Linked DNA regions of Homo sapiens: regions 2, 3 and 4 are each reported to be linked to region 1. Evidence: microRNA targets listed by miRTarBase, many of them from high-throughput screens and not tested one by one. Region 1 holds a microRNA gene; each other region holds the end of a gene's coding sequence.
The links. The annotated mature microRNA hsa-miR-935 reads CCAGUUACCGCUUCCGCUACCGC and lies in region 1 at 3,615-3,637, shown strand. An mRNA with a match to its seed (bases 2 to 7 or 8) in the 3' UTR can be bound and repressed. Matches are read on the target gene's strand: a 7mer-m8 pairs with bases 2 to 8, a 7mer-A1 pairs with bases 2 to 7 and ends in A, and an 8mer does both.

Region 1 (7,336 bases):
CTGCAGAGAAAAAGAGGAGGGCGGGGCGGGGAGTGGGGGCGGGGAGAGAGAGATAAGGGGAAGAAGGGAGGGAGGAAAAGAGGGAGAAAGAGAGATAGACGAAGTCAGGCCTAAAGGGGGTAGGGAGGGAGGGAAGGAGGAAGGGAGAGGAAGGGAGTGAAGAGAAGAGAAACCTGGAAGATTGAAGAAACCAGGCAGAAAAGGAGGGGAGAGAGAGACCCAGGAAGATAGAGGAGGCCAGGCGAAAAAAGGGGTGGGGTGGGGTGGGGTGGGGAAAGACCTAGGAAGACAGATGAGGCCAGGCAGAAAAAAAAAGAGGGGGGAGAGACCTAGGAAGATAGGTGAAGCCAGACAGAAAAAGTTGTGGGTGGGGGTGGCTAGGAAGACAGATGAGGCCAGGGAGAAAAAGTGGGAGAGAGACTTAGGAAGACAGATGAGGCCAGGCAGAAAAAGCGGGGTGGGGGGGGACCTATGAAGACATACGAGGCCAAGCAGATAAGAGGAGAGAGGGGAGACAGAGCCAGAAAGATAGATGAAGCCAGCAATAAAACTGGGTGGGGTGGGGGCGTGAGGAGAAGAAGGGAAGAGAAACTCAGAAGTAGATTCAGCCTGGCAGAAACGGGAGGAGGAGGAGGAAGGAAGGAATGTAGAGAGAGAGAGAAACCCAGATAGATGAAGCGAGGCAGAAAATGGGAGGGGGTGTGGAGAGAGGTAGTAAGTGATTTGCGGGATATGGAGAAAGAAATTCGCAGACGAGAGGAAGGAAGGGACGAGAAAGAGAAAGGGAGAGGATCCATGGAGAAGTTGGGAGAAAAACAGGGAGAGTGATTTCGATAAATAAAGAGGGGGAAAGATATTCCAAGAGAGAGAAAAATAGTCCGAAGAAAAAAGAAAAGGACAAAGAAAAAGAGGGAGAGAAAATCAGACCGAGAAATAGAGAAATTTTAAAAACAGGAGAGAGAATGAGGCAACAGTAAAATAAACCAGAACACAGCCGGAGAGAGAGAATCACAGAACTGTCGGGAGGCGCCGCGAGATGGGGGGCCGGGAAGGGGGCGCAGGCGGCCGCGTCTGACCGCCCTCGCTCTCCCTCCTTTTCCTTTCCTTCCTCCCCCGCAGGAGTTGTCCGGGCCTCCAGCATCTTCCCCATCCTTAGCGCCATCCTGCTGCTGCTCGGGGGTGTGTGCGTGGCGGCCTCCCGCGTCTACAAGTCCAAGAGGAACATCATTCTGGGCGCAGGGATCCTGTTCGTGGCAGCAGGTGAGAGGCAGAGGGAGGGGGCGACCGGGGCGGCCCACCTGGGCGCGCACGTGTGTGTGTGTGTGTGTGTGTGTGTGTGCGCGCGCGCGCGTGAGTGCAAGTGCGCGTTCGTGTGTCTGCAAAGCCACCTTGCCCCGAGCACCCCCGGGGGCCCGGAGCCTTCCTAGGCGGTCCCCAAGCTCCATCGCCACCCGCTGGGTAAGGTGGGTGTAGTTCTCGCGTCGCCTTCGGAGGAGTAAACCGACACAGGCAGGTGTCTGGCGCGTAAGACGCCGGGCGCTTAGGATCCCAAGCCCGCCGTCCTGGAGACGGAAGGGGAGGAGCTGGGGAGGGGGTGGGACCTTGAGACACAATTGGGCTCTTGAGGATAGAGAGGCGGGGCTGGGTCTTGGAGGGCGGGCCCAGGAGAGGTAGAAAGTGATCTGAGCGCCGATGAGGAGCCTGCTTTAAGGGGCGGGCCTTTGGAGACTTTGGTGGATCCAAGAGGGGGCTGGTCCTGGGAAACCGTCCAGGGCCGGGAAGTGGAAACTAAAGGGGCTGGGTAAGGGAGACTGAATCGGCCCTTGCCCGTGGCCATTTGGAGAAGGAGAGGCTAGAAAAGACGGGGCGATGCCTGGAAAAGCCAAAGGGGGAGGGGTTATGTCCTTAAGGGCACAGAGAATCAACCTGGCTGATTGAAGCAAGAGGCCGACCAAAGCCAGTCAGTACCTGGGATTGGCCGTCTCAAGAGCTAGGGCCTAGACGAGCAGAGAGCTAGGACTGGAACACTTAAGAGGCACGCAATTAAGGGGTAAGGCCCCCTTTCTACCCCGTATGAGTAGCATTGGGAAATTCCAGGGGCAGAGCTTTTTTGGAGGAGTAGAATACAGAGAAGAGGGAGGGCTTTGCATATTTGAAGAGCAGGGTGTGCTTTGGGGATGGGTCTAGATCTGCAAGGGGTGGGGCTTGGAGGATCTGAAAGGCCGGAGTAGCTGGACCTGAGACCGGCAAGGACCCGAGACCGGCAAGGACCCTGGCCAAGATCCGCACGGGGCGGGGTTTGGTAAGCTGGAGGTGGGGCCTAGAGTAGAAGGCGGGGCCTGCTTTATTAAAGGCAAATTTTTGACCAGTAGGGGAGGGCCTAGAATGGATACTCCGGCAGGAATTATATGAAGAGAGATTAGATAAGTGAAAGGCAGGGCCTGATCACAGCAGGATGACATCATTAACAGAGTTCAAAGGAGCAGAGGGATGAGGCTTGGGAAAAACCCAGGTTTATAACGTTAAGGGTGGAGGTAGACTAACTAGGGCAGGGCCTGGAAACTCATCTCATCAAAGGTGGGTTTTAGACCAGTCAGGGCAGGGCCTGGACTCGCTGGGAGTGGGGCTTAGGCCACCTAGGGGTGGGGCCTGGACCGCTTGGGGTGGAGTTACCACCAGCCAGGGTGGGGTTTAGACCAGCAGAGTTGGGACCTTAGCTAGAGGAGTGGGGTTTATGCCATGTGGGGGCAGCCCAGACCATCTGGGGGTGGGTCCTAGACCACCTGGGGCAGAGTTTAGACCAGCCAGGGCTGGGTTAGACCGGCAGAGGTGGGCCGTGGGCTATCTGGGGGCAGGACCTGGACCATCCAGGGCCGTGTCTGGACCATTCAGGGCAGGGCCTGGACCACCTGGGGGTGGAATTTAGACCATCTGAGGGGGTGCTTGAGCCTGCCTGGGCCAGGACCACGCATGATGCAGTCTGGACCATTGGCGGCCCTACACCACCTGGGGGATGGAGTTTCGACCAGCCGGGGTTGGATTAGACCAGCAGAGGTGAGGCCTGGGCCAGCTAAGAGTGGGCCGGAGCCCTCTGGGTTGGAGCTTAGACCAGCAGGGAAGCGCCTAGAGCATCGGGCGGGGAGTTGTGTTCACTTCTGGCAGGACTTGGGTCAGCCAGATCCAGGACGGGGGTCTAGACCACTCGGGGTGGGGCCTAGACCGCCTGGGGGTGGCGCCTGGGCCCGCTGGCGCAGGCGGGCAGGGGTCGGGGCCGGGGGCGGGGGCGGGGCCGGGGGTGGCCTCGAGGCTCCCGTCTGACCGTCCCCGCCCAGGCCTGAGCAACATCATCGGCGTGATCGTGTACATCTCCGCCAACGCGGGCGAGCCGGGCCCGAAGCGGGACGAGGAGAAGAAAAACCACTACTCGTACGGCTGGTCCTTCTACTTCGGCGGGCTGTCGTTCATCCTGGCCGAGGTGATAGGCGTGCTGGCCGTCAACATCTACATCGAGCGCAGCCGCGAGGCGCACTGCCAGTCTCGCTCGGACCTGCTCAAGGCCGGCGGGGGCGCGGGCGGCAGTGGCGGGAGCGGCCCCTCGGCCATCCTCCGTCTGCCCAGTTACCGCTTCCGCTACCGCCGCCGCTCCCGCTCTAGCTCCCGCTCCAGCGAGCCGTCGCCGTCGCGGGACGCGTCTCCCGGCGGCCCCGGGGGCCCGGGCTTTGCCTCCACGGACATCTCCATGTACACGCTCAGCCGCGACCCCTCCAAGGGCAGCGTGGCCGCGGGGCTGGCGGGGGCCGGCGGCGGCGGCGGCGGCGCCGTGGGGGCGTTCGGCGGCGCGGCCGGGGGCGCCGGGGGCGGCGGCGGAGGCGGCGGCGGGGCGGGTGCCGAGCGGGACCGCGGGGGGGCGTCCGGCTTCCTCACGCTGCACAACGCCTTCCCCAAGGAGGCGGGCGGCGGCGTCACGGTCACGGTCACCGGGCCGCCCGCCCCGCCCGCGCCCGCGCCACCCGCGCCCTCTGCGCCCGCCCCCGGGACCCTGGCCAAGGAGGCCGCCGCCTCCAACACCAACACGCTCAACAGGAAAACCACGCCTGTGTAGGGGCGCGGCGGGGGAGCCGAGGGGCGTGTCCGGGGCGCGTGCGCGGGCGCGCGTGCATCGAGGCTGCCGGGGTCGGGGGCGCCCCCGCTTTCCCCCGTGAGCGCGCTGGAGACTGCTGGGCCCGCCCCACGCCCACCCTCCCCGCCCCCCTCCCCCTCCGAAGCAGGGACCCCGAGGGAGGGGGCAGGGGAGGGAGGGGGCCGCTGTGAGGGAGCGTCGTGTTTTATTTTTTTGGGGGATCTATGGGGAGGGGGGAGGGCCATGGTGTTTTTTGCAGTTTCGAGATGTTTTCTTTTTCATGTTTTGCTGTGTGCATGGGGGGCGGGGCGGGGGGAGGGGAGGGAGGGACTCCCAGCCCAGCCCAACTCCTGGAGAGGGGCCCATAATACACGAATACATAGTTACACCCACAAACTATATATATGCCCTATATAAAGAGACACAGCGAAGGGATGCAGAAAGGCAGAAAGAAGGGTTGGACGCGGGCATTCATTCATTTTTTTCATTCATTATTCCACAAGGGCTTATTAAGCACCTACTGTGTACCAGGCACTGGTACATAAGAAGGCATTGGAGCAGGGGACACGAACGAGGCACAGAAAGGGCCTTCTCATTCATTCATTCATTACCGGCAATTTATTTGTGCGCCTTAAAAAGCTAGGCATTGTGCTCCGTGCTCAGCGTGCAGGAGGCAGGAAAACAGCCAGGGGCCCCGACGTCTCATAGAGTAAACATCTTGTGCATGAGACAGGCATTAATCGATCATGTACATACACAATAAATTACAGTTAGGCTATAGGAGAAACGAGATGCTATGAAATGCTCCATCAGGGGAGCCTAACCCAGTTGTGAGGAAGAGATTTCAGTGGACAGTGAAAGGATGAGAAGAAGCCAGCAGGGCGGAGCTGGGGCAGGAGTGTGGCAGGCAGAGCAGCACGTGCAAAGGCCCCGGGGCAGGAAGGAGCTTGCAGCGAGGGCTGAAGGGTAGTGAGGCAGGTGAGCGGGGATCAAGGTGAGGCCGGAGACACAGACAGGGCCAGATTGTGCAGGGGCTCGTAGGTCAGGAGTTCAGATTTTATTCTAGGAGTGGTGAGGGCCGTGGAACGGGTTTAAGCAGGACGCTAACGTGAATGGTGTACAAAGGGAAGACAGGAACTCGGAGGCAAGAGTAGGAGGCAGAGATGTGCTGAAATACAGCATCAAACATGGGCACGGGCCCTTGGAGCTCACACTCTTGTGGGAGGAAGCACGTAATTACACAGATGCTGAAGCATAGTCATGGTGTCTGGTGTGCAGGAGAAAGCCGTGGGGCTTAGAGACTCATGTGTCTGTCACTCGTTCATTCAGCCACTCACCCATTGCCATTTTTGGCCATCTGCTAAGGTACCAGGAAGTGTGTTAGGATCCAGATCCCCAGGGGTGAAACAGACTCTAGCCCTGCTCTCAAGCAGTTTATTGTCATCAAACACCGCCATCCAGGCAGGGCAATCGGTGCTGGAACCCGGACCACCGTGGGTACCGTGGCACACGGTGGACAGAGTGACCAACTGCCAGGAGTGAGCAGCACTTGGGGTAGGCTTCCTGGAGAATATGATGCCCATTCTGGGTCTTGAAGAAATGAGTGGGCATCTTCTGGTTGATGAAAGGCATGAGAAAGGCTTGTGGGGCCAAAGAACAACTTGGGTGAAAACGGGAGGAAGTGAACGAGCATGATGTATTGGGGTCAGTGCTAACAGTTCTGGGATGCTGATGTACAAGGTGGGGCTGGGAGATGAGGCCGGGAAAGTAGCCACAAGCTAGAGTGTAAAGGTACCAGGGTGGCCGGGCGCGGTGGCTCATGCCTGTAATCCCAGCGCTTTGGGAGGCTGAGGCTGGAGTATCACTTGAGCCCAGGAGTTTGAGACCAGCCTGGATAACATGGCGAAACCCTGTCTCTACAAAACATTAAAAAAAATTAGCCGGGCGTGGTGGAGCACACCTGTGGACACAGCTACTCAGGAGGCTGAGGGAGGAGGACCATTTGACTCCAAGAGTTCGAGGCTGCAGTGAGCTAGGATCGCGGCACTACACTCCAGCCTGAGCAACAGACTGAGATCCTGTCTCAGAAAAAAAGAGAAAAAGGTGCCTGAGTTCCAGGCAGAGGGACTGAGGCTCTTCTAAGGATGGTGAGAGAGGATGACAGCTGCGCGGGGGCAAGGGCTGTGCGGTGATTGGAGGGGATGGGTTTGAAGTTCACTGAGAAGGCAGAGGGGACAGCGCCCAGTAGGCTTCCCTTCCATATTTGCTCAGCAAGTGTTTCCTGAGGCCTCCCCCGAAGCCTTGTGCTGGGCGGTGCTGGGAGTGGAGAGGTGATTTTGATCTTGCCCTGCTCTCAAGGGGCTCCCAGTCTGGCGGGAAAACAGGCACAGACGCAGCTTGAGGAGGACGTGGCAGCGGTGGTGCCATGCTGCCAGGGGCTCTGCGTGCCCTTCTCTTGACGGAAGGGTACAGATCAGAGCTGGGTGTTCAGAATTTCTCTCCGAGGCCTGTGTGGAAGGACCAGGAAGAGAGAGACTGAAGGTCCCTAGGAAGAATTCTGCCAAGGCGGTTTCAGGAAGAGATGCTGGGAAATGTAGGAAAAGGAATACAAATCAGTGAGACGGAGAAGCGCTGAGTGAGAGAGACGGATACGTGGAGAGAAGAGGGATGCCGGAGCGGGTGTTAAAAGAGACAAATCTGGCCGGGTGCTGTGGCTCCTAATCCCAGCACTTTGGGAGACTGAGGCAGGCAGATTGAGCTCAGGAGTTCCAGACCAGCCAACATATTGAAATCTTGTCTCTACCAAAAATACAAAAATTAGCCGGGTGTGGTGGTGCACGCCTGTAGTCCCGGCTACTCAGGAGGCTGAGGTGAAAGGATCTCGCTTGGGCCTGGGAGGGTGAGGCTGCAGTGACCCGTGATGGCACCACTGCGCTCCAGCCTGGGCGAAAGAGCGAGACTCTGTCTCAAAAAAAAAAAAAAAATTGAGAGACAGCAAATATTTGCTGGAAGAGGGAGAGGGAACTGGTTAGGGGAGAATGGATTCTAGAGTCTGAAGGCCAAACAGAACGAGAGAGAGAGAGAGAGAGAGAGAAAGAATGAGGTTGAGGGTAGGCAGGAGGAAGAGCAAGATGGGGAGGGAGGGGGAGAGCAGGAGAGACCAAACTAGTAGAGTCACAGACAGAGAAAAAGTCAAAGACAGGAAGGTGATACAGA
Region 2 (7,000 bases), not on the chromosome of region 1:
ATTCTTGGCTTTAAGTTCATGAGTAATTTGTTTGTGCTGAACTGCTGTTAATGGAATGTCTACCACAGTCAAGTTCACTCTGATTCATAAAAATGAAGACTGTACTTTTAAAGACTGCACTTTTAGTTTTCACTACATACCCTAATAGATATGATCACATGGCCCACAACTTATTAACAAGTAGACAACTGGCAAAGGGGGATAATTTTTCTTAACGCAAAAGCATTATTCAGGAATAATCTGTAACAGCAGCTGTGTACTGAGATGAACAGGCAAGACACTCTAAAATCTAAAAGAATTGCTGGACTGTATGAAAAAAATGTTGGAGCATATGAAAAAAAAAAGTTGTGCCTGTCTACACAATTTGATCTTTAATGACTACTATAAGGATCAGTAGAGCTTTTCCACAAAAGGGTCAGGAAGTAAATATTTCAGGCTATGCGGGCCACATATAGTTGCTTTTTTTTTTTTTTTTTTTTTTTACATAACCCTTTAAAAAAGGGTAAAAAATCCATTTGTCCAACCCCTGGCATATTGTAATACCATGAGTACCTGATTTTTTTTTAAATGGACAGTCTATGCTTTCATGAGGCATGCATATTGAGCACCCCGTGTGGGATGGTCCCAGCTAGGGGAGAAAGTATGTGTGTCTGTGCTCACCCGGCAGCATAACTACACAACTGCCCCTCTGAAGGATGGAGCAAAGGACATCTCCTGAGCACTGAGCATCAAGCACTGAGGCTCTGGGAAAAGGAAGATCAGACAGAGAGGAGGTAAGTGGAAGGAACTGAGCAGCTTCGGTTCAATCCCAAGGCAAAAGCCTGAGCAAGGACACACTCCACAAAGTGCTCAGGGTGGTTCCCCGGGCCCCAGGACGGCATGACACAGCACAGCACAGCAAAGCCCTGAGAGCTCTGAGTTTCTGCCTGAGTCTAATTATCTATAAAGGAAAGAGACTGGATCCTCAAGTCTTCCAATCCATCCATTGTAGAATACAGGACTCTGTTCTGATGTTTCAAAGGATGAATTATATTGAAGGCTGCCTCAAAAGACTTCCCAGTCTGGGCAACACAGTGAGACCTCATTTCTGCTAAAACTGGAAAAAAAAAAAAAATTAACTGGGTGTGGTGGCATGCACCTGTAGTCCCAGCTACTCAGGAGGCTGAGGTGTGAAAATCTCTTTGAGCCTGCAGTGGGCGTCATAAAAATGAAGATGACTATACTTTCAAAAAACTGTACTTTTAAACTACATACCCTAATAGATAAGACCATATGCCCATTGCACTCCAGCCTGGGGCGACAGAGTGAGACCCTGTCTGGGGGCTGGGCAGGGGGAGGGGAAGGCCCTCCCACAATTCTGCTCGTTTTAAATACAATAATCTTTTTATTTTTCCCCTGAAAAGGATTTGAGAGCAAGCATGGGGAATAGCACTTACTGCTAGGATATGAAGACCGCCTTACACAGATCAATTTTATACTTAAAAAAAATTCCAGTATTTCAGTGGATATCAAGTCACAATAAGACATCAAAGTAATACTAAGAATTCAAAATGATAATTGTTTCAAAACAACTAAAACGATCAGTGATTTGGGGCCACTGACAAAAATTTTTCACTGACAGGACATTGAATCACATTAAAAAAAAACCAGCATAGAAACTCATACTTGGGTTGGTGCGGTGGCTCACTTGTAATCCCAGCACTTTGGGAGGCTGAGGTGGGAGCACTGCTTGAGGCCAGGAGTTTCAGATCAGCCTCGGCAACATAGCGTAACCTCGTCTCTATTAAAAAAAAAAAAAAAAAAAAAAAATATATATATATATATATATATCCTTATCCTTGAGTTTTTGGAAAAGGAGGAAGACTATAATAGCTTTTCAGTCATACTCTGGTTATAACTCCAATTTTTTAAATCAATATTAAAGCACTTCAAAAGCCTCTATGTTTTATTTGTTGGCTTACCTTTAATAAAATTATTTTGAAAGTATGTGGCTGAAAAGGTATCAGTACCAAAATATTATATAAGAATAAACAAAGCTTTGGGATTGTGATCAGACTTTGTTTCTACTCTGTGAAAAAACATTTTCCATATCTAAATGTGACATTCAGAGGACTAAAAGTCCAACTAAAGTAGTCTCAACTAATTTTACCAGAAACAAAATCTTGGCTTACTTTAATAAACAAGAAATAAAGCCAGAGTCAGTTCTGTGTGAGTGAAATGAGAGGCCCAGGCCACATAATTTTAGAACTCTGAATCCCTATTTGCTCATGGGTTCCGGCTCGATACGGTAAGGTGGCCTCATTTTGGCTACTGTGATGGTTTTTTTTAAGAAGATGGAATGCTAAGGTTGCTCAAGTTTAAGGGGATAGTAGTGCATATCGATATAACATGTCTCCTTTGAAAAGAAAAAATGGAGACAAGGAAAATGAGAAGTAAAGAAGAACAGAGAGAAAAGGGCAGAAGAGAGAAGGAAAATCAAGAATATTTGTTCCTGAAAAGGATGACTTTCTCAAGCAGGGATCAGCAGATGTTTTCTGAAGGTCCAGATAGTATCTTAGGCTGTAAGGGCCACACGGGTCTCTGCCGCAGCTACTCAACTCTGCTCTTGCAGTGCGAAAGCAGCCGCAGACAGAACTTAAGAAAATGGGTGTGGCTATATTCCAAACACATTTTATTTACACAAACAAGCGACCAGCCCACAGTTGGCAGACCCTTGACAGATCATCTGGAATCCGAAAGGCAGTCTGCACAGAACTTGCTGATAGTAACACTACAGCATCTCCAGCTTGTATCACATAGCATGCTATATTTTCCTACTTGGCTCTTAGGTCCACTAATCAACAGGAATGCTGCCCATAAATGTGAATGACAGCTCCCACCCTCATGACCGAACCCATTACAAAGCAGGAAAAGAGGCCAAACCTCAATTCAAAGTAATTATCTTGAAGTGATGCCTTTTACTGATGACCTATCTGAACAGTGAGAAATTCACCTGCATAGTATGTGATGCATAGAGATCCCATTAGAAAGCACCACATATGTAAAGGGATGACTAAGGGCACCTCTTCTATCCATACGATTTTAGGAACAATACAGCAGGAGACTCACAGCCTAAGATTATCATTTTAGATAAGGCTGCACAGAAGTCTTTAACAAGGAATCCAAGGGGCTAGTGACTGGTGACTTACAGAAACTGACAGCATTCCTATGAAGGAAGCCTCAGGAGCAGAATAAAGGTTCACAACCTTCCTGCTGTGCTGCAAGATTGTTACCTGTCTGAGGAAGTGCTAGGGGTGAGGCTCAGGACCCCAAGTGAGGGAGTGGTCTCCTGCATGTCCATCTATAGCAGGGAGTCTCGTAGGATAGAAGATGGGTGTCCTGAAGAGGGCCCTCCTCTACGGGAGCTATGGCAGAGCTTCAGTGATTGCTTCCCAGGCATCTTCCAGCTTCTCCAGAAACTCAGAGAATACCAGTGTCCTTTGGTCATCAACTTCAGCCCCAAGACTGGAACAGTCATTTCACTGAGTGTACACCCAGGAGAATTCCTTTCTGATTTGGATCGGAATGTGGGATGGACTGCTTTTGCATCTGGTGTGGTAAGCCATTCTTGAAGATGGCTCTGGGAAGAAGGTTTTTGCAAGGTAGGGAAAACAATAGCAGACTTGAGTCAATACCACACCTGAGCTTGGAGGTATCTGGGAAACTGCTTTGCCAGTACCTGCTGTAGGTATCAAAGGGCCTTGCAGGATTAGCCCTCAAGTTTTGCTGTTTTCTTTCTTCTATTAACAAAATTAACTGAATCAGCAAAAATGAGATTCAACAAATATAAAAAATTCTAAACTTTTAAGTGTCATAATTATGTAGACTCTTGGTCTATTTAAATGTCCTTATTATAAAGTATAAGTTGATTTTAAAGATGATCCATTGCATTGTTAGGTATATAAAATACATACATACACATTAACACCTTTTCTCACACACAGCCTAGAATGGGAAAGAAGGCTATTATCTTTAACTGAGCTTTTAAAAATGAAAAAGAACTTAGAAAAGGAATGGAATGAATTACAAACTTGGAACTGGAAAAGTTCCACCCACTTACTACCTTACACCTCTCCCTAACCTAATCCAAGCACCTTACAAGGTAGTCGGTATGCAGCCAACGGGGCACCTCTTCTGTACAGGAATCAGCATGCCTGACATTGGCAAACATCAGCTGTTTAAGTCACCACAAACACAATATCCAGTGACAACTATATGAAAAGACATTTTTAAAACCTTAAAACCATTTTTTAAGATTAAATGAACCTATTCAAAACACATTAATGCCTCTGTGCAACTTAATGCTGAGAAAGGGTTGCCAACATACACACTCAGCAGTTTTATTAATGTAGGTAGCTCTTGAATGGCCAAAGTCAAAGATACTAAAAAGAAAAAGACTCATCAGATAGAGAAGACATGAAAAAAAATCAGGGCTTCATAAGACAGCAAGCTTCTCTAGCTATGAAATTCAACACAATTCTAAATTTCTCACAAATCAAATACTTTTCTCCAGTCTTATCCAATCATCAGAAGTTCCCATGATATACAGCAAACCTTTAACAGAATGGGTAGAAGGCCTGTATTATCATGATTTGCATGAAAAAAGTCCATCTGGGCTTATCTAAAGAGATCTGAAACAACCTAAATGGAAAATTTTCAAATAAAAAGGACAGGGCAGCAGCTGTCCATACAAGCTGATTTTGGTGACAGAACCGGTTAAGGAAGCTGACTGAGGCTTCAACAACCAAGCCTTTTTTTGTAGAGCGGCCCAATGGAAAAGTCAAGTACACGCTGCACTATAATAATGGAGCAAGGTCACAGGCACTAGGTTGAAGCCAATGCGCCTGTCTCAGGCTTCACCTGGGAAAGGCAAACAAAGTCATTAAAACATTGTGGCTCTCACTTCTGAGACACGGAATAGAGCCTGACATGACATGGCAGGAGTGATACTACAAGCATTTAACTACTAGGATGGTGTTAATCAATCAGAATGAACGTCTACTCCAACAAGTACATTCACATTGGAGCATACAGCTGAACATCAGCTCTGGGTGTAGGGGGTGTGTGGGCTCTTCACAGATGCTGGAGCTGCTTCCTCCAACTGCAAGGCTGCTCTAACCTTTACATAACTCCATGCTGTTTTAGATCTTTCTGAGTCTGGTACCAAAGTGGTATTGGGGATGCTCACAGAGACACTGGGCTACTTTTAAACCATCTGTCCTTTGCTAATTACTCAACTCAGGGACACCCAAGCACACTGCATAGGGAAAAAATTTTACTGTAAAATTGGGATTGGGAGACATTTGTGGCTGATAACCACATGCAAATGCACCCAAACACACATGGACATACATATTCTTAAACCTTTCTATTACTGGAAATAATAGTTCGGCTTTCTTTGAATATGGAAGTACTCTGGGTAAGAAAGAAAATAAGAGTCATTTTCATCCTAATCATCAAATTACAGCTACAAGATGGAAAAAAAAAATCCTAGGCTTTTTCCTCCCGAAGTAGGATGGAAGCCTTGCAGGAGTGCTAGCAAGACCAGAAATGAAGAAGATGGTGAGAATTAGTAATACAGTTTGGGGATGCAAATGATTTTTTAGAGTTTGTAAACAAAAATTAACACTTGTGACATATCTCTTGTCCCATGGGCACATAATTTAGAATACATGCTCTCAAATGACAAAACATCAAAGGTGAGAGGAGGGACCAACAATGAACATGATCTTTTTTAAAAGGGGGTAACAGAAATAGTAATCTTTTATAATTATAAATCCTCTGCATACCATAAAATGATTTGGTTTAGCTTTCAAACATCATCTAAACAAACAAACAAGACAGAGAGGGAAGTTCACTGCTGGGGTTTGCAAAGAAGGGCATCTGTTCGTGGGCAGATGCTGCAGGGTGGCTGCTGAAAAGCTCCTTTTATGTGCATGATGGTGGTCTTCTCGGCTACAGTACAAGTGCTTGTGCATCAAGTATAAAATACAAGCCTTTAATCACATAGATCAGCTTTTTAGCTTTTGTAAATTTAAAAACAAAAAGGATAAATAAGGCACTGTACTTTTAAAAACGAAAACTGCTTGGTTCCAAGTTTAAAACCCAAGGAACAACCAGAATATAATATATAACTTCCCTTAGCCTCAGAGAAGGACTCTGCAAGTTCCCTTCTCCATCTGAGATGCATTTTCTGACATCTCAAATTACGGTGTTCTCCATTAACTGTAAATTTGAAAGGCTTGATAAGCTTATAAAAGCAGATTTAGTTAATGCAAAATAAAAGGTTACTTCTATAGAACAGTTTTACTCTTGGCTACCATCTTTCCAATCACTTTGCATCCAGCCGCCTCCGTTTGCTGTGCGAACAGTCCAGCTTTGCCTTCAGCTTTCGCTTTCTCTGAGCTGCACTGCTCTCTGGGGTTTTCGTTGAGGGTCTGGCCCGAGTCTTTCCACTACTCTGCTTCCTATTCGTGGCTTTCTGAGGCCTTGAAGAGGATTCACCGGCCCCCTTCTGTTTTGCAGGTTTCGTCAGTGTTTCCGAGGCAATAGACTGGGAAGGCCTTTTGTTTGTATTCTCTTTTTCTTTCCTGGAGGGAGGGCAGCTCTTCCCAGCGGACTTTTTAGGGATCTTCACTTTATTCTCTTTCAAAGACGTCTTTTTGGGGGGTTGGCTGCTTCTGTCCCTTGCAGCTGGCCTCTTGGCAGCAGGGGTTTTGGTGGCTCCATCAGCATGCTTTTCTTTGCTGGCTTTCACCGTAGGCCCCTTGTTCTTACTATCTGGAGGGCTGCTGCCTTCTGTTCTCTTGCGTTTACTCTGAACTTCTGCTTTAGGCAAGATTTCAGACACCTGCTTCCCCTTCCTTCCCTTCATTCCTTCAGTACTCTTGGGCTTAACAGGAAACCCATCTGCATCCACTTGCAGGGCAAGCTTGGGGGACATCAGAGGGTTGATGCATAC
Region 3 (7,336 bases), not on the chromosome of region 1:
TTTCCTGGCGTAATTCAGACTTGGGGAGAGAAGAATCATCATCCATCACACACCCAGACCCAAAGAGACTCAAAGCCAGGAGGAGCCGGGTGGACCCAGAGGCCCTCACCCTGCCAGCCTAAGGGGCATGGCCCAAGGTCTCCACCCCCAGCCCCCAGAGCACAGCTGTGTGCAGGTCACCAGAAGCCCCAAATAATGACAGCAGCCCAGACAGTCGCTACCGGGCCCTGGTGCAGTGTGAAGCCTCTGGCACCTGCCTGGGCTCATTCCAGGGGCCATGAGAGGGTCCTGTTATGGCTGCACCATCACACCCACCGGGCAGCTGGGGCCCAGCTCTGCCATGGATCCCAGCCAGGCAGCAGCCGCCCTGTGGGCTGAGAAGCTTCCGCTCCTGCTGCACAACTGCGAAGGGGCCTGGAGGGCCGGGAGCTTGTGACGGTGACAATTCCTCCTGGCGCCTCCTCCTCCGGGGCAGCCGAGCAACCCTGGACATGAGGGGGCTTCGTCCCACCCCCAGGAGAAAATGCCCAGTCCTCCGAGAGTCCAGTGAGGGCTTGCCAGCCAGGGACCAAGACCCAGTATGGCCTAAACCAGGCCTGGTCACCAGGGGTCAGGCGGGACCTTATACAGGGCTCAGCAGAGAGACCTGCCCGCTACCCTGCTCCAGGGGAGATGGGGGTGGGGGCCTTCATCCCACTCGGGCATGACAGAGGAGAGCAGCCAGCCAGCATCTGCACGTCTCAGGCAGGGAAGGGCCTGAAGCCCTGGGAAGCAGAGGCTCCGCCCTCAGGAAACAGGTCCCGGCCTGGCTCCCTCACAGCCTCGGACTGCCCCGTGGACCGAAACCCCCAGGCACCTTGCGCCAGGACTGGCCTGATGGTGGAGACGCCACACCATGAGCAGTAGGTTCCTCTCCCCACCTTCCCAGGCGGGGGACACTTGGGGCTCAAACTGGGGCCTTGTGAACGGTCTCAGGCTTGCTCAGTGCCACCCGTGAAGCTCCTGGCCTTCCCCGGGCCGGTCCCTCTGCCAAGTGGGCCCTGCTGGGTCTCCCCTCCCGGAGCTGCCCCCCGTCCGCCCTTCCCCCTTGCTGCGCTGTTCACTGCTGAGGGTGCCGACTGGAACAGTTGCCCTGCCCGGGGTCTGCTGGGGGTCTACCTGTGCTCAGGGTGGGGGCTCCTCATGCAGCCCCTCTGTCCGTGGGGGACCCTGTGAGCAGCTGCAGCTCAGCAGCAGGCTGAGGAGCCGGGTCGGGGGCCGGGAGTCCCAGCAGGCCCTGGGCTGACATGTGCCCCCTTGCAGGTGGGTCCGAGGAGAGCACTACAGGTACAAGTTCAGCCGTCCTGGGGGCAGGCACGCCGCCGAGGGCAAGTGGTGGGTGCGGAAGAGGATCGGAGCCTACTTCCCTCCGCTCAGCCTGGAGGAGCTGAGGCCCTACTTCAGGGACCGTGGGTGGCCTCTGCCCGGGCCCCTCTAGACGTGCACCAGAAATAAAGGCGAAGACCCAGCCCCTCGGCGGCTCAGCAACGTTTGCCCTTCCCTGCGCCCAGCCCAAGCTGGGCATCGCCAAGAGAGACGTGGAGAGGAGAGCGGTGGGACCCAGCCCCCAGCACGGGGGTCCAGGGTGGGGTCTGTTGTCACATACTGTGGCGGCTCCCAGGCCCTGCCCACCTGGGGCCCCACATCCAGGCCAACCCTTGTCCCAGGCGCCAGGGGCTCTGATCTCCCATCCATCCCACCCTCCTCCCAGAGGCCCAGCCTGGGGCTGTGCCGCCCACAGGAGTTGAGACAATGGCCATCCTGACACCTTCCTCCACTACAGCCCTGACCATAGACCCAGCCAGGTAGCTCTTGGGGTCTCTAGCGTCCCAGGGCCTGGTTTCTGTTCCCTCTTCAATGGTGTGTTCCCAGCCAGGTCCTGACCCTCAGAGCCAAGTCCCTGTCACGTCTGGGGCAGCCAAACCCTCGCCCCACAGGGACCTGGACACGCCCGGCCAGGATGTGGGGTTGGATGGGCCATTTTCTGTCCTATCCCTCATCTCCACCCCCGCCACAGCCTACACGCATCCCACACATGCAGGCACACACAGCCTGTGCACACATGTGTTCTTGGCCCGGTTTCATCCCCCCATGACTGGTGTCTGTGAGGTGCAGATGGACACAGCGCACACCCAGACCCTCCACCAGGCTGTGACCTCGCTGCCTCTGAGGCCTTGACAAGGCCCCTCAATCGGAGGACAGCCGGCCGTGCACACTTTCATCATCGTCGGACAAACAGCGTCTACTGCACATTTTTCTTATTCCTATTCTTGAGCCATAGCTATGGCATATTCTTCTACTATTCCTATTATACCACTTACCAGCTTACTCGAAAACACACTGTTTAAATGAAGAAGTTCTTGTACCTCCCTCCCCTTGGCGGTGGCCGTGCCCCCAGCCCACACTCTGATGCTGGGGCAGCGGGTGACCGAGCGGGAGCTTGATGGAGAGGTGAATGGGTGGTGCTTTGCCTGGCGACCCTTCCAGTGTCTGCTGCGGCAATACTTGGAGTAAATGGGAATGAGCAGGGGTGCCAGCCCTGCCGGAAGGAGGCAAAGCTCTGGGGCAACGTCCCCCACCCAGGACGCTGTGAGGCTGGGTCCTGGGAGAAGTCAGAAGTGGGCCCCACCATAGGACAGAGGCCCTCCCCTCTCCCCCAGCCTGGGGGGGCGGTTCCCCCACCCACCCCTTCCCCCTGCCTCCATCCACGGCACCTGGAGCCATGATGCCCACGGCTGAGCCACTGTGGGGGGCCCCAGTGGGGACAACACGGTGGTTCAGGCCGAGGAGGGCGGCTGCGGTAGGCACAGTGTGGGTCTGTGTGGAGCCCCCCCTCGGCCTGCCCGGGGGGGACAGCCAGCCCAGGTGCCAACAGAGGGCCCGTGTTCCAGCTCCCGGGGAAACAGGGCGCCCTGTGTCTGTGGAGGGACAGACAGGGCCTCAGAGGGACGCACCAGGAGCCAGCAAGTCTGCCGGAGCGACCACGCGGAGCTGTCGGCCACAGGGGCCTGGGCGGCCCTTCCCGGGGGGCTGTCCCAGGGACTCTGCTGTTGGTGGGGCCCAGCCCTGTGGCACAGCTCAGGGGCGGACATCTCAGGCAGCGGCAGTTGTGGGAACCCGAGGGACCCATCGCCTGGGAAAGGCTGGTGCCACGGGGTGCCCCTGCCCAGCCTCTGCAAGGGGGAGACCTGAGGAGCCAACAGCCCTCCATGCCCCCTGCCCGGAACCCTCCCGTGCGGCTGTCCTCCCCGTAGTGGGTCCCGAATCCCACAGCCCCTCCTCCCGGGCTCCTTCACCCCGCTCCAGGCTCCTCTTGTCCCAGGGCAGCTGTGCACCACTGGTCTCCCGGGGACCCCGTAGTGGGGCTGCAGGTCCTGGTCAAGGGGGGCAGGGCAGGAGCCCACAGCAGTAGTGACTGGGCACCCCGTTCATGGGACCCACAGCCCAGAGACTCCGCAGCACTGTCCTGGGACCACGGGAAGGGCCTGCAAGAGCCCTGGAGCAGACACCCTCATCCTCCGTTGGGGATGGCAGCTGTGACTTCCCAGGGGACCTGGGGGTGGGGTCACAGGGCATGTGGGGTCAAGTCACACAGCATGAAGTGGACCAGGGCCGTCATTAAGCGAACAGTTTGTGGTGTGGAGTGCGCTCCCGAGGCCGTGCATCCACCTCCCCTCCATCCAGCCCATTTCCATCTTCCAGACAGAGCCTCTAGCCCCAGGGAATCCATCTCATGCCTCTGTGGGTCCCTGTTCGGGACCCTTCATATAAACGGAATCACGGGCCTCAGCCCTCCCATCGGGCATGTCAGCTTCTTCCCTCACGTCTGAACTCTCCACAGAGTCTGTGCGAGACGCCCAGCCCCCGGCTGCCTGTGTTCTGTGTGACGGAGGGTCCCACCTGCCGGTGTGGGGCAATGGGGCCAGTGGCCCCGACACGTGTCAGGCCGATGCCTGTGGTCAGGAAGTCCCCTGGGGGCGGAGGCCTGGGCATCTGAAGGGGTGCTCGGGGTGGGAGTCATGGTGTGATCTGCCCTCCCCATCTCGGCCAGCCTCGGGGGCCTGTCACTGTGGAAGGCAGGTCTGCTACCACCTCTGGGTACCCCACCAAGGTCACAAAAATAGGGGGGCCCCTGGACCCAGCTGGGGGCCTCGAGGGCCCACTCCATGGAGCCCTTGGCTCTGACCCGTGAGTGTCCAGCCCTGCTCAGGGAGACCCCCTCAGCTGGCAGGCAGAGGAGCCCTAATGGTGGGGGTCCAGTCTCTGGATCCAGGTTCCCAGAGACGTCCACTCACCTGGGGCGGACAGGTGACCTGAGGTCGGGTTGTGACAGCCTCGGCTGGAGTGGAGCCTGCACCCTCTGCAGACCCAGAGTCTGTCACACCTGACCCTTCCAAGGCTGGGTTCCCCTCACCTCATCTGTCTTTGGCAGATAGTCCCAAGGCCTCACCACACTGAGCCCATCTCCCCCAAACGTCTGGGGTCCCTGTGTGGTCAGGGCCGTGGGGCCTTTACACTAGCAACCAGTGCCAGCGCCCACACGGCAACCCCCTGGCTCTCCAGGGCCTGCTCTGCGCCCTGACACTAAGCTGCCCCAGTCCCGCACCAGGCCCTCAGTGTGGGTCTGCTGGGTCAACTGTGGGCCTGGGGGAAGGGAGAGGCACCCTGGAGTCCCCAGAGCAGCCTCCCTGGCTGGGTCAGGCCCTCAGCCATTCTCACTGCAGCTTGGAGGTCTCAGACTGCCCAGGTCCTCATCTGAGCAGGAAGGTTTGGGAGAATGGCAGCTTTGGAGCTTCAGATCAGCAACACACAAGAATACCACAGACGGCAGCAGCTGGCCCACAGTGGCAGAAAAGAAAGCTCCCTCGTCAAAACAGTATCACAGCAGCATGGAGACCTAGAGATAAACGGGGCACAGTAACCACCCGAGAAATCGTCCCACATGCGGCCAGGTACCGCCCAATGAGAACAACACGAGAAATCGTCCCACACACACGGCCAGGTACTGTCCGATGAGAACAACCCGAGAAATCATCCCACATGCGGCCAGGTACCGTCCGACAAGAACCCGAGAAATCGTCCTACACACGGCTAGGTACCTTCTGACGAGAACGGCCAGAGAAATCGTCCCACATGTGGCCAAGTACCATCCGACGAGAACAACCCAATAAATCGTCCCACACACGTGGCCAGGTACCTTCCAATGAGAACAACCTGAGAAATCGTCCCACGCATGCGGCCAGGTACCTCTGACGAGAACAGCCCGAGAAATCGTCCCACACGCAGCCACGTACCTTCCAATGACAACAACCCGAGAAATCATCCCACACACGGCCACATACCTTCCGACGAGAACTAGGTACCTTCCGACAAGAACAACCCGAGAAATCATTCCACACATGCAACCAGGTACCTTCTGACAACAACAACCACAGAAATCATCCCCCACGCGGCCAGGTACCGTCCAACGAGAACGACCAGGTACCTTCCGACAAGAACAACCAGGTACCTTCCGACGAAAATGACCCGAGAAATTGTCCCACATGCAGCCACGTACCTTCCAATGAGAACAACCCGAGAAATCATCCCACACACGGCCACATACCTTCCAACGAGAACAACCAGTACCTTCCGATGAGAACAACCAGGTACCTTCCGATGAGAACAACCCGAGAAATCATTCCACACATGCAACCAGGTACCTTCTGACAACAACGACCCAAGAAATCGTCCCACACGCAGCCAGGTACCTTCCAACGAGGACAACCAGGTGTCTTCCGACAAGAACAACCAGGCACCTTCCAACGAGAACAACCAGGTACCTTCCGATGAGAATGACCCAAGAAATTGTCCCACACGTGGCCTGGTACCTTCCGACAAAGGCTCTGAGACCATTCAATGGGAAGAGGACAGCCTTTTCAGCAAATGGTACTGGGAAAGCTTTATCTCCACATGCAAAATAATGAATGAAGCTGGCCCCTTACCTAACAGCATACACAAAAATTAACCCAAAAAACATAGGATGAAACACCTAAATGTAAGAGCTAAAACTGTAAGACTCAGAATAAAACCTGGGAAAATCTTAAGGACATTGGATTTGGCAGTGTTTTCTTGGATATGACAACAACAGCACCGGCAACAACACAGAAAATAAATTGGACTTCATCAAAATTTGACATTTCTGGCCGGGTACAGTGGCTCACACCTGTAATCCCAGCACTTTGGGAGGCCAAGGCAGGCGGATCACCTGAAGTCAGGAGTTTGAGACCAGCCTGGCCAACATAGTGAAACCCCGTCTGTGCCAAAAATACAAAAATTAGCCTGGCGTGGCAGGCACCTGTAGTCCCAGCTACTCGGGAGGCTGAGGCAGAAGAATCGCTTGAACCCGGGAGGCAGATGTTGCAGTGAGCTGAGACCGTACCACTGCACTCCAGCCTGGGCAATAGAGTAATATTCTGTCTTTAAAAAAAAAAACTGTGGCTATAAGTGAGACTGCAGAGCTGCCCCGGGCTGCTGTCTGTGGAAGCCCTGCCCTGCGGGAGCAGCCACAGCTGTAACCCCACCTCTGAAGTAAAGCTGTTTCCTTCCACCTCTGGCTCGACCTTGAATTCTTTCCTGGGCAAAGCCAAGAACCCTCTGGGACTAAGCTCCTCTTTCGGGCTCGTCTGCCATGCATCAGAATGATGTGGCCACGTGGAGACTGTCTGGGGGTTCCTCGAAATGTTCAGTGTAGACGGATGACCACATGACCCCGCAACTCCACGTCTGCACGTAGACCCGGGAGAGCTAGAAACGGCGACCACGTGACCCCGCAACTCCACGTCTGCACGGAGACCCGGGAGAGCTAGAAACGGGGACCACGTGACCCCGCAACTCCACGTCTGCACGTAGACCTGGGAGAGCTAGAAACGGGAACCACGTGACCCCGCAACTCCACATCTGCATGTAGACCCGGGAGAGCGGGAAACGGGGACCTGGGTGTGCTTGCACCGGAACGTTTGCAGCAGCCCAGAGGTGGGGACAGCCCAGATGAACAGACCAGGTGTGCTCACCCATGAGCATTACGCAGCCGCAAAGAGGAGCGAGGCCCCGACGCTCAGATGAGCCTTGAGAACCTGATGCCCAGTGAACCCGCCAGACACAGAGGGCACCGGTCCTGCGATGCCGTCTCTGGAATGTCCAGAACAGGGAAACCCACAGAGACGCTGGGCAGGGAGAAGGTGGACGGCTCTCGGGGCTGCTGGCAGGAACAGGGAGAGCGGGCATGACGGCTCACAGGTCCAGAAGGTTCTCTGGC
Region 4 (7,336 bases), not on the chromosome of region 1:
AGTGCTGCTGCGTGCGGATCCAGCGCCCCACGAGGTGGTCGCGCACGGTATGGGCCAGAGCAAAGTAGTAGTCTCGTGGGGTGGCCACATTGCGGTCCTTTACGAGTGTGAAATGCAGGTGCCGGTTGAAGTTCTTTTTCAGCTCAGTCACGTTCTCCACGCCGGCCAGGCCACGCACACTGATTTGCTTTCTTTTCTCTTGGTCTGACAGGGGCCGGGACATGGCTGCAGGAGGGCGGGCCGGACTGGACTGATGGTAGAGGGGACGGCGGCCTCAGCACTGCCTCCAGCCAAGGAGTGGAGCTCCCCAGCCTCAAGGGGATTTAAAGCCTGGCTCTGGGCAGCACGCCCCGCCTCCCCTGCAATGGGAGGGTCTTGGCCTGGCAGCTCAGGGAGCTATTTTGAGGGCAAGGGGAGGAGAGGAGAGGGGAGGGAGAGGTGAGCTCCACTTGGGCCGCCAAGACTGGCCTGGCTTGTTCACAGGCCTGTGCTGACCCACTTCCTCCAGGCCTTGCACATGGTCTTCTGTCCCTTGTCCCTGCCTTTTGGAGGGTTGGATACAAGAAGGAGCAGGCAGAGTGCTGGATTGGGGAGCTGTCTGTCAGTGGCTGAACCAGGATGGGAGGCCATGTGTTGTGGCAAAAGGAACCAGGACCCCCTGCAGGCTGTGGTGCAGGAGCCAAGTCAGTGTCCCCTGACGGAAGAGGTGCAACTAGCAGAGGCCACTGGATGTCTTTGAGAAAGGGGCCCACGACCCTGCATTGCAGGGGTGGTGTGAGGGAGGTTGTGTGAGGCAGGGCCACAGCCCTCACTCCACCCCCACCGAAGCTGAGCAGCTCTAGGCTCCCCCTGTTGCTGTCCCTCAAGGAGCCCTGAAGTGACCTTTTGGAGAGGGATGCTCAGGTTACTGGCCAGCATTGGCGGGAGGCCGCTAGCCTGCAGCACGGGGCCCTGGGAACTGTAGTCCTATAGGCCCTCGGCGGTGGGAGAAACTGAGGCATTCCCCACTCCATCATCATACTGGTTTAATGACAGTAAGTTCTCCCTGTGATTCCACTGCTTAGGAAGTGATTAGAGGCCTTCTTTCACTTCTTCCTGCCACCTGGGGCCACACTCTGAGCAGGATTTTGTAAACCAGCTCTGTGACCTGGCCTATAAAATGGGTGCCTAATCTGTACCTCGAGGACCTCACCCCATTTGTGTGCATAGCCCCACAGCTTTGAGCCCTTCCCTGGAGGCTTTGGCTATCCTCCCATTCACTGCTGTGTTCTGGCCCCAGCACTGACTTGCTGTGTGACCTCAAGCTGGTTGCTTTACCTTTCTGAGCTTTGGATTCCTTCACCAAATTTAGACTCTCCAATGAGAAAAAAAAAAATCCCTGCCTCTCAGCTGCTGCCTCCTCATCTTGTGAGGGCAGGCTTCGGATCCTGCTGTTCTTTAAGAGAAAGGAACCAGGACCTTGTGCTAGTTCAAAGGCTGTTTGGGCCTCCCGGGTGGTGGGCCGGTGGAGGGGAAGAGCTGGGTGTTCTGTTCTGAAGGCCAAGGAAGCAGGTCAAAAGCCTGGACAGCTGCAGGATACTATTGAGAGCCTGGTTCGGAGAAAGCCAAGCTGTTTCTGAGAACTTTTTTTTTTTTTTTTTTGAGGTAGAGTTTCATTCTTGTCGCCCAGGCTAGAGTGCAATGGCATGATCTCAGCTCACTGCAACCTCCGCCTCCTGGGCTCAAGCAATTCTGCCTCAGCCTCCTGAGTAGCTGGGATTACAGGCACCCACCACCATGCCCAGCTAAGTTTTGTATTTTTAGTAGAGACGGGGTTTCACCATGTTGGACCAGGCTGGTCTGGAACTCCTGACCTGAGGTGATCCGCCCACCTTGGCCTCCCAAAATGCTGGGATTACAGGCATGAGCCACAGCGCCCGGCCTCCGATCACTTTCTGAGCCATGGCAGACCCAGCCCTGGAATCACCGGCTTAGTATGTGGGCCAAACTTCAAGTCCTACAGAGGTCTCCAGGCTCCCAAGCCCTGCTCTACCCCTGCCCCCAAAAGGCACGGGCACACTGTCTTCTGTGGTGCCTGCCACATTTCCAAGTAGAGAAAAAAGATCGGGAAAAAAACACCAAAATACACCTCCACAGACACGGGGATGCAAACAACTTTTCCTTACATTTTTCTGTTAATTTCCAATTTCTCTTAAGAAGTGTTTCATAAACCATTAAAAAACAATGCTGGCCGGGCGCGGTGGCTCACGCCTGTAATCCTAGCACTTTGAGGCCGAGGTGGGTGGATCACCTGAGGTCAGGAGTTCGAGACCAGCCTGATCAACATGGCGAAACCCCGTCTCTACTAAAAATACAAATATTAGCCAAGCATGGTGGCACATGCCTGTAATCCTAGCTACTCGGGAGGCTGAGGCAGGAGAATCACTTGAGCCCGGGAGGCAGAGGTTGCAGTGAGCCGAGATCACGCCACTGCACACCAGCCTGGGCGACACAGCGAGACTCTGTCTCAAAAACAAACAAAAAAACAATGCTGGCAGCTGTCTGGTCTCTTCCCCTTTCACAGTTTGCACCCCAGCCTCAGCTCCTGGGCCTCATCCCCATCCTCCACTAAGCACAGCTTGGACTCCAGCTTGGCCTGGCATCCAAGGTTCTTCACAGCCCGCACTTGTCCCTTGGAGGGTTGCTGTGAGTAGAGCTGAGACTTCTTGGCAGTCCACTGCCAGGCAGGCAGTAGCTTGTTAACCATGCCGTCACCTCACAGCCCAATCGTGGCAGCCTGCTTTGGCCACACACACCTTCTTTGCATTGACCCCTATTTCCTGCAAGACTTTATGTTCCTGCCACTGAGGACCCGATCCCCATAGACCATCCACATCTTACAGGCAGGGAAGGCCAAGTTCATTCCATCCTTTCCCAGCTACTCTCCCCTCTTGCACCCAGGGCGCTTGCTCTCAGGAACATTTTTACTGGGAAATTTTTAACTTTCTCCAACTACCTTTTCTGTGGCTTCTTTCCGTCTTTGTCATGCCATCACTCCCCACTGTTTCCAGGCTTTGTCCCGGGGTGACACTGCATGCCCCAGCCCAGCATGATCACACCTGGGCAGCACGATCTCATCTGTTTCCCTGCTTCCTCCGCCCCTCCTTGGTGTTGTGTATGCAGGTTTAATGAACCCTGAAGCACTTTTACAACCTGAACTCACTCGAGGTTATTTATGTCTAAGTTTCTAACTAGAAACCCGGCCTCCTTCCTTGGACCAATCCTGGGTTTCTCCAGAGCCCTTGGCTGAACCTCAGTAACAGAGCCCTGAGGCTGACCTTTCCCCACTGGCATTCCTCTTGCCAGGCCTTGCCAGGCCTTGAGGGACGGGGACAGTGCTGCTACAGCAGCAGAAATGAACGTGAGGAGAGGGGGTGGGGCAAGCACAGCCCTGTCACAATGTGATGGAGTAAATGGCTTGCTTTCCCACCCCAGGTGTCTTAAGACAGGTGGGCAGGCCTTTCTCTCTCTGATTCTGCCAGAGGCAAGTGCTTGCCACGGTTCAGAGGGCCAAGCCTTCCTGCTGTCTCTTCCATTTCAGGGCCTCTAGCACCTTGGAGACTGATGCCTTAGTCAGCCACTTCCTCTCCAAAACCTTAACAAAAGCTGACGGCAGGGAGCAGAAAGGGAGGGAGCACAGGAATGGAGCTGGCCTGGGGGAGAGAAGCGGAGGAGATAGCTAAGCTGTGGTTAAGTCATTTATTGATTTTATTTCTAAAACCCACATAGCGCCACTTTGCCGCTTCCAGAGCTTCAAAGAGCTAATTAACCACCCAATGAGCCCACCAGGGAAACCAAGCTTGTGGGAGAAGCAATGAGGTGAAGCCAAGGTCAAAGAGGGTAGCCAGGCCCCAGGCCCTGCCCCCATTCTGCCACTTAAGGACAAAGGCAAAAAAGATGTCCTCCTTTTGGTGAGCCGAAGTTTAGGGCTTGGCTGGGGAAACGCACTGAGCCTGCCTTGCTTCTGAGGGCTCCTCAAGCCTGGCAGACCCATAGCAAAGCACAGGCCTCCTGGACGGGGGACCAGACACCCCAGTAAACAGCAGTAGCCAGCCCTAGCTCACAGCTGGAAAGCAGCCCAGGCCAGTTGCTGGCCCCAGCAGCCAGATGCTGGGGGAGCCTACTGTCCCTCAGCCGCCCTGAAGGAAGGAGAGGCAGGTGGAACCAGGGCAGCTCTAAGGCACCTCTGCCCAGGAGAGGACCTCACTACCTGGTGGAGACTCCACATGGATTTTTCTGGAACCCTAACAGTAACTACCCACTCGCCGCCCAAGACATGGAAAAAAAGCAGAAGACCCTTTGAAAAGTGCTTGCAAAGCACAAGATGGGGCACTTTATCCTGTCCCCCCGACCCCCGCCAAAGCCTACAGCGCTGGCAGGCTGCAAGTCACCAGCAGAGAAGGAAAAAAGCCACTTGGCGGTTTTAATTTTAGCTGCTCTGTGCCTGACAGGCAGGATTAGTTGGCTTGACCTTTAGTGTTGATGCCTCCCCAGGCCCAGGGCCTTAGGTGGCAGCTTCCAGGCACAAATCACCACTGGAGCTCATCAAACGTGGACGTCTGAGCCCCAGGAAAAAGCCTTCAAAGGACAGAGACTAGAAAAATGAGCAGTGAACAAGGAGGGGCAAAATTGGTTCTCAGCGATGTTAACTAGTCACCAAAGGGGAGACTGTGGAGCCACCCACACACTGAGCTCCCACCACCAAAGCCACACACAGGAGGCAGGTGGTGGGCTTCCCTAATTAACCACCCACAGTCTCACCCCCCCGGACCTGGTGCTGAACGAAAGTTAAGGCACCTTTGGTGCTGCTGCTGCTGCTGGTGGTAGAGGAAGTTTATGTGAAAAGAAAAACCGGGCGGGGCAGGCATTAAAAAGAAAATAAAGAAGCAGACCCAGAAAACCACACTGCTCTTTTATTCAATGGAACATCCCCGCTTTAGCGCAGTGTTGAATCTAACACCGAAAAAAGCCCAGAGAAATTTCTGCAGATAAACCAGTGAAGAGAACGCGCAGTATACATTATTGTCAACAGAATCACTTCATGGAGAGGGAAGCGGGAGGAAAAAGGAAGGAGAATGAACAAGGGGCTCAAACCCCTACACACTGCAAAACATTCAGACATTTGGGATTAAAACAAAACATAAAAGGAAGCCTTCCAGGAAGGAGAGGACCAAATGGAATCTGAGGCAGCTCAGGTGATCAAGGAGCACAGGAAGAACTCCAGGCTGGCAGGCGAGCCCGAGGGAGCTCAGGCTGCCCACCCACTGCTGGCAGGATCGCCAGGACGGATGGGAATCCCGAAACCTGGAGATGAACCTACCCTCGGCAACTTTACAAGACTCCCTTGACAAGGGTGGCAGAGATTAAAAAACCCCACGCTTTAAACAAACATCTTTGGGGGTGGCTATGGCACCTTGAAAAACCCACAACCAGCTTGACATGAATGGCCAAAGCCCTTGCCCAAAACCATTTGCTCCCCTCTCCTTGGTAAGGGAAGGAGAACTGGAGAGAAGGGAAAGGAATCTAAATTGCAGCAGAAGACCGGGGAGAGCATCTCCTTGGACGGAGTCTGAAGAAAGGAAAAGATAAAGAAGTAACAAAGGAAAAAGAAAAAAATTAATAAAAATTTCACGATATGGAGCCAGCGTGTTCCGATTCCGTCCACAAAAATAACTCAGGCTGCTTTGCCGAACCATCCTGTCCACCAGGGGCGTTGCTGAGGCTGTCTGCCTGGAAGGGTCACCAATGGGCGCGGAAAGTCCTCACTCTCATGGCTCGGGCCATCGCCGCCGCGGGGAGGGATCCTGGCGGCCCGGTTTGGGGAGAGGCAAAGGGAGTTGGGTGAGGAGAGAAAGAAGACAAAGAAGACACTCGATGCTACGGGGCGCCAGGAGAGCCCAAGCTGGCGCCCCTACTACCACCTGCCCGTTCCCAAGCGAATCCTCAGTCGCTTGGCCCAGCCCAGTGCGTGCACACACACACATGCGTGCACACACAATCACATGCGTGCGTCCCAATGTCTGGCTCCATATGGTGAGGTTCGGCGTGTTTAAACGAGACCAATTCTCTCTATATATAATATATATTTTCTTAAAAAACAAGTCTAGTTCTGTGGTGGAGGCGGTGGGGGAGCTGGAGGCATCCCGAAGGGCGGCATGCCCGCCACCCCCATGCCCATCATGGTGACAAAGTTAGAAGGGTCCATGGGAGGCGGAGGAGGAGGGGGCGGGGCATACATCATGCCGGCGGAACCAGGCGGTGGAGGCGGCGGAGGGGGAGGGGCCCCAGGCGGCAGAGGCGGCTGGACCCCGGGGGGCAGGGGCACCATAGTGGGGTTGCCTTGCATCTGAGGGGCTCCTGGAGAAGCTGCGGCAGCCGCCTGCTGCTGTTGCCATGGCGGGATGGACCCTGTGCCAGCGCTCGTGGTGGTAGTCGTCGTATCTGGGGTGGTAAAGAAGCCCAAGGTCACACGCGCGGGGGCACACCGCGGCTGTCTGCGGCTGCTGCCTTGGGATGGGGGCGAGGGGCGCCTGCTCCTTGCTTGGCATGCGGTACGGTGGTGGGGGGCGGGTGGGCGGGGCTGGTGATGGGGAGTGGAGGGGTGGGCAGGACTACCCTGGGGTCAGCCTCGAGGTCTCTGGGCTTAACAGAGTAAGCCCTTTGTCACCAATGCCCCTGGAAGGGCTGAGGGGAAGGTACCAGACACAAGAACAGCTCTGATGTCCCTCCGCCCAGCCGCCGCCACCACCGAACGGCACATTCAACCTCAAGGCCACAGCTGCTGTCTCCCCACTGCCCAGTCCCACCTCTGCAGTCTCTCACCCCAATCGCAGCCCTTGCCAGAGCAAGCATGCACCATCCCACTCGACCCATATGCACCAGGCTCAGTCCAGCCAGCCGCTCACTCAGCCTGCGAGGGTCTGGACTTCTGGCCCCCTACCTACAATAGCAGGCTCCCCTCCAGGCCCCCACGAACCTCTCCCCAGACACAACCACACCAAACATCAGCTCTCCTCTTCAAGATGCCCCTCCACCCCCTGGACCAGGAGGCCCTTTCTGTTTACAACCCCAGCAGAGCCCAGGGGCTCATCCCAAGACACCTGCCTGCTTGTGTGAGGCTCTATGGTTCCTGTCAGCCCCACCCCCATCCCACCCACCCCCACAAGCCCAAAATATTCTACTCACTTTGCTGCCATGGCAAGGGGGTACTGGAAGCCATACTGCTGCTGGGCGGAGGGGGTGGCGGAGGCTGCTGCTGCTGTTGTTGCCATGGGGGAAGAGGACCAGAGGGAGGGGG

Region 2: the mRNA of LCOR is a reported target of hsa-miR-935. The part of its 3' UTR that is shown has no 7-base or 8-base seed match.
Region 3: the mRNA of LMF1 is a reported target of hsa-miR-935. The part of its 3' UTR that is shown has no 7-base or 8-base seed match.
Region 4: miRTarBase lists SF1 as a target of hsa-miR-935. The part of its 3' UTR that is shown has no 7-base or 8-base seed match.

What each region holds. Positions count from the first base shown.
Region 1 is chr19:53,978,748-53,986,083 of GRCh38, forward strand. It overlaps MIR935 (microRNA 935), which reads left to right and starts at 3,560; the gene lies at 3,560-3,650. It overlaps CACNG8 (calcium voltage-gated channel auxiliary subunit gamma 8), which reads left to right. Exons shown (of 4, transcript NM_031895.6): 3 at 1,120-1,260; 4 at 3,333-7,336. The coding sequence ends at 4,102. RefSeq lists an enhancer at 1,236-1,768.
Region 2 is chr10:96,984,505-96,991,504 of GRCh38, reverse strand. LCOR (ligand dependent nuclear receptor corepressor) reads right to left here. Exons shown (of 8, transcript NM_001346516.2): 8 at 1-7,000. The coding sequence ends at 6,371. Among named protein-coding and RNA genes, the nearest start is that of SLIT1-AS1, 110 kb to the left of the region's middle. RefSeq lists enhancers at 6,564-6,693, 6,260-6,759, 6,760-7,000.
Region 3 is chr16:848,673-856,008 of GRCh38, reverse strand. LMF1 (lipase maturation factor 1) reads left to right here. Exons shown (of 11, transcript NM_022773.4): 11 at 1,303-2,375. The coding sequence ends at 1,477. Among named protein-coding and RNA genes, the nearest start is that of GNG13, 52 kb to the right of the region's middle.
Region 4 is chr11:64,759,676-64,767,011 of GRCh38, forward strand. SF1 (splicing factor 1) reads right to left here. Exons shown (of 13, transcript NM_004630.4): 12 at 7,225-7,336; 13 at 4,931-6,480. The coding sequence ends at 6,143. PYGM (glycogen phosphorylase, muscle associated) reads right to left here and starts at 299. Exons shown (of 20, transcript NM_005609.4): 1 at 1-299. The coding sequence starts at 223. RefSeq lists enhancers at 1-413, 414-1,116, 2,453-2,502, 2,533-2,852, 3,440-4,313 and 6 more.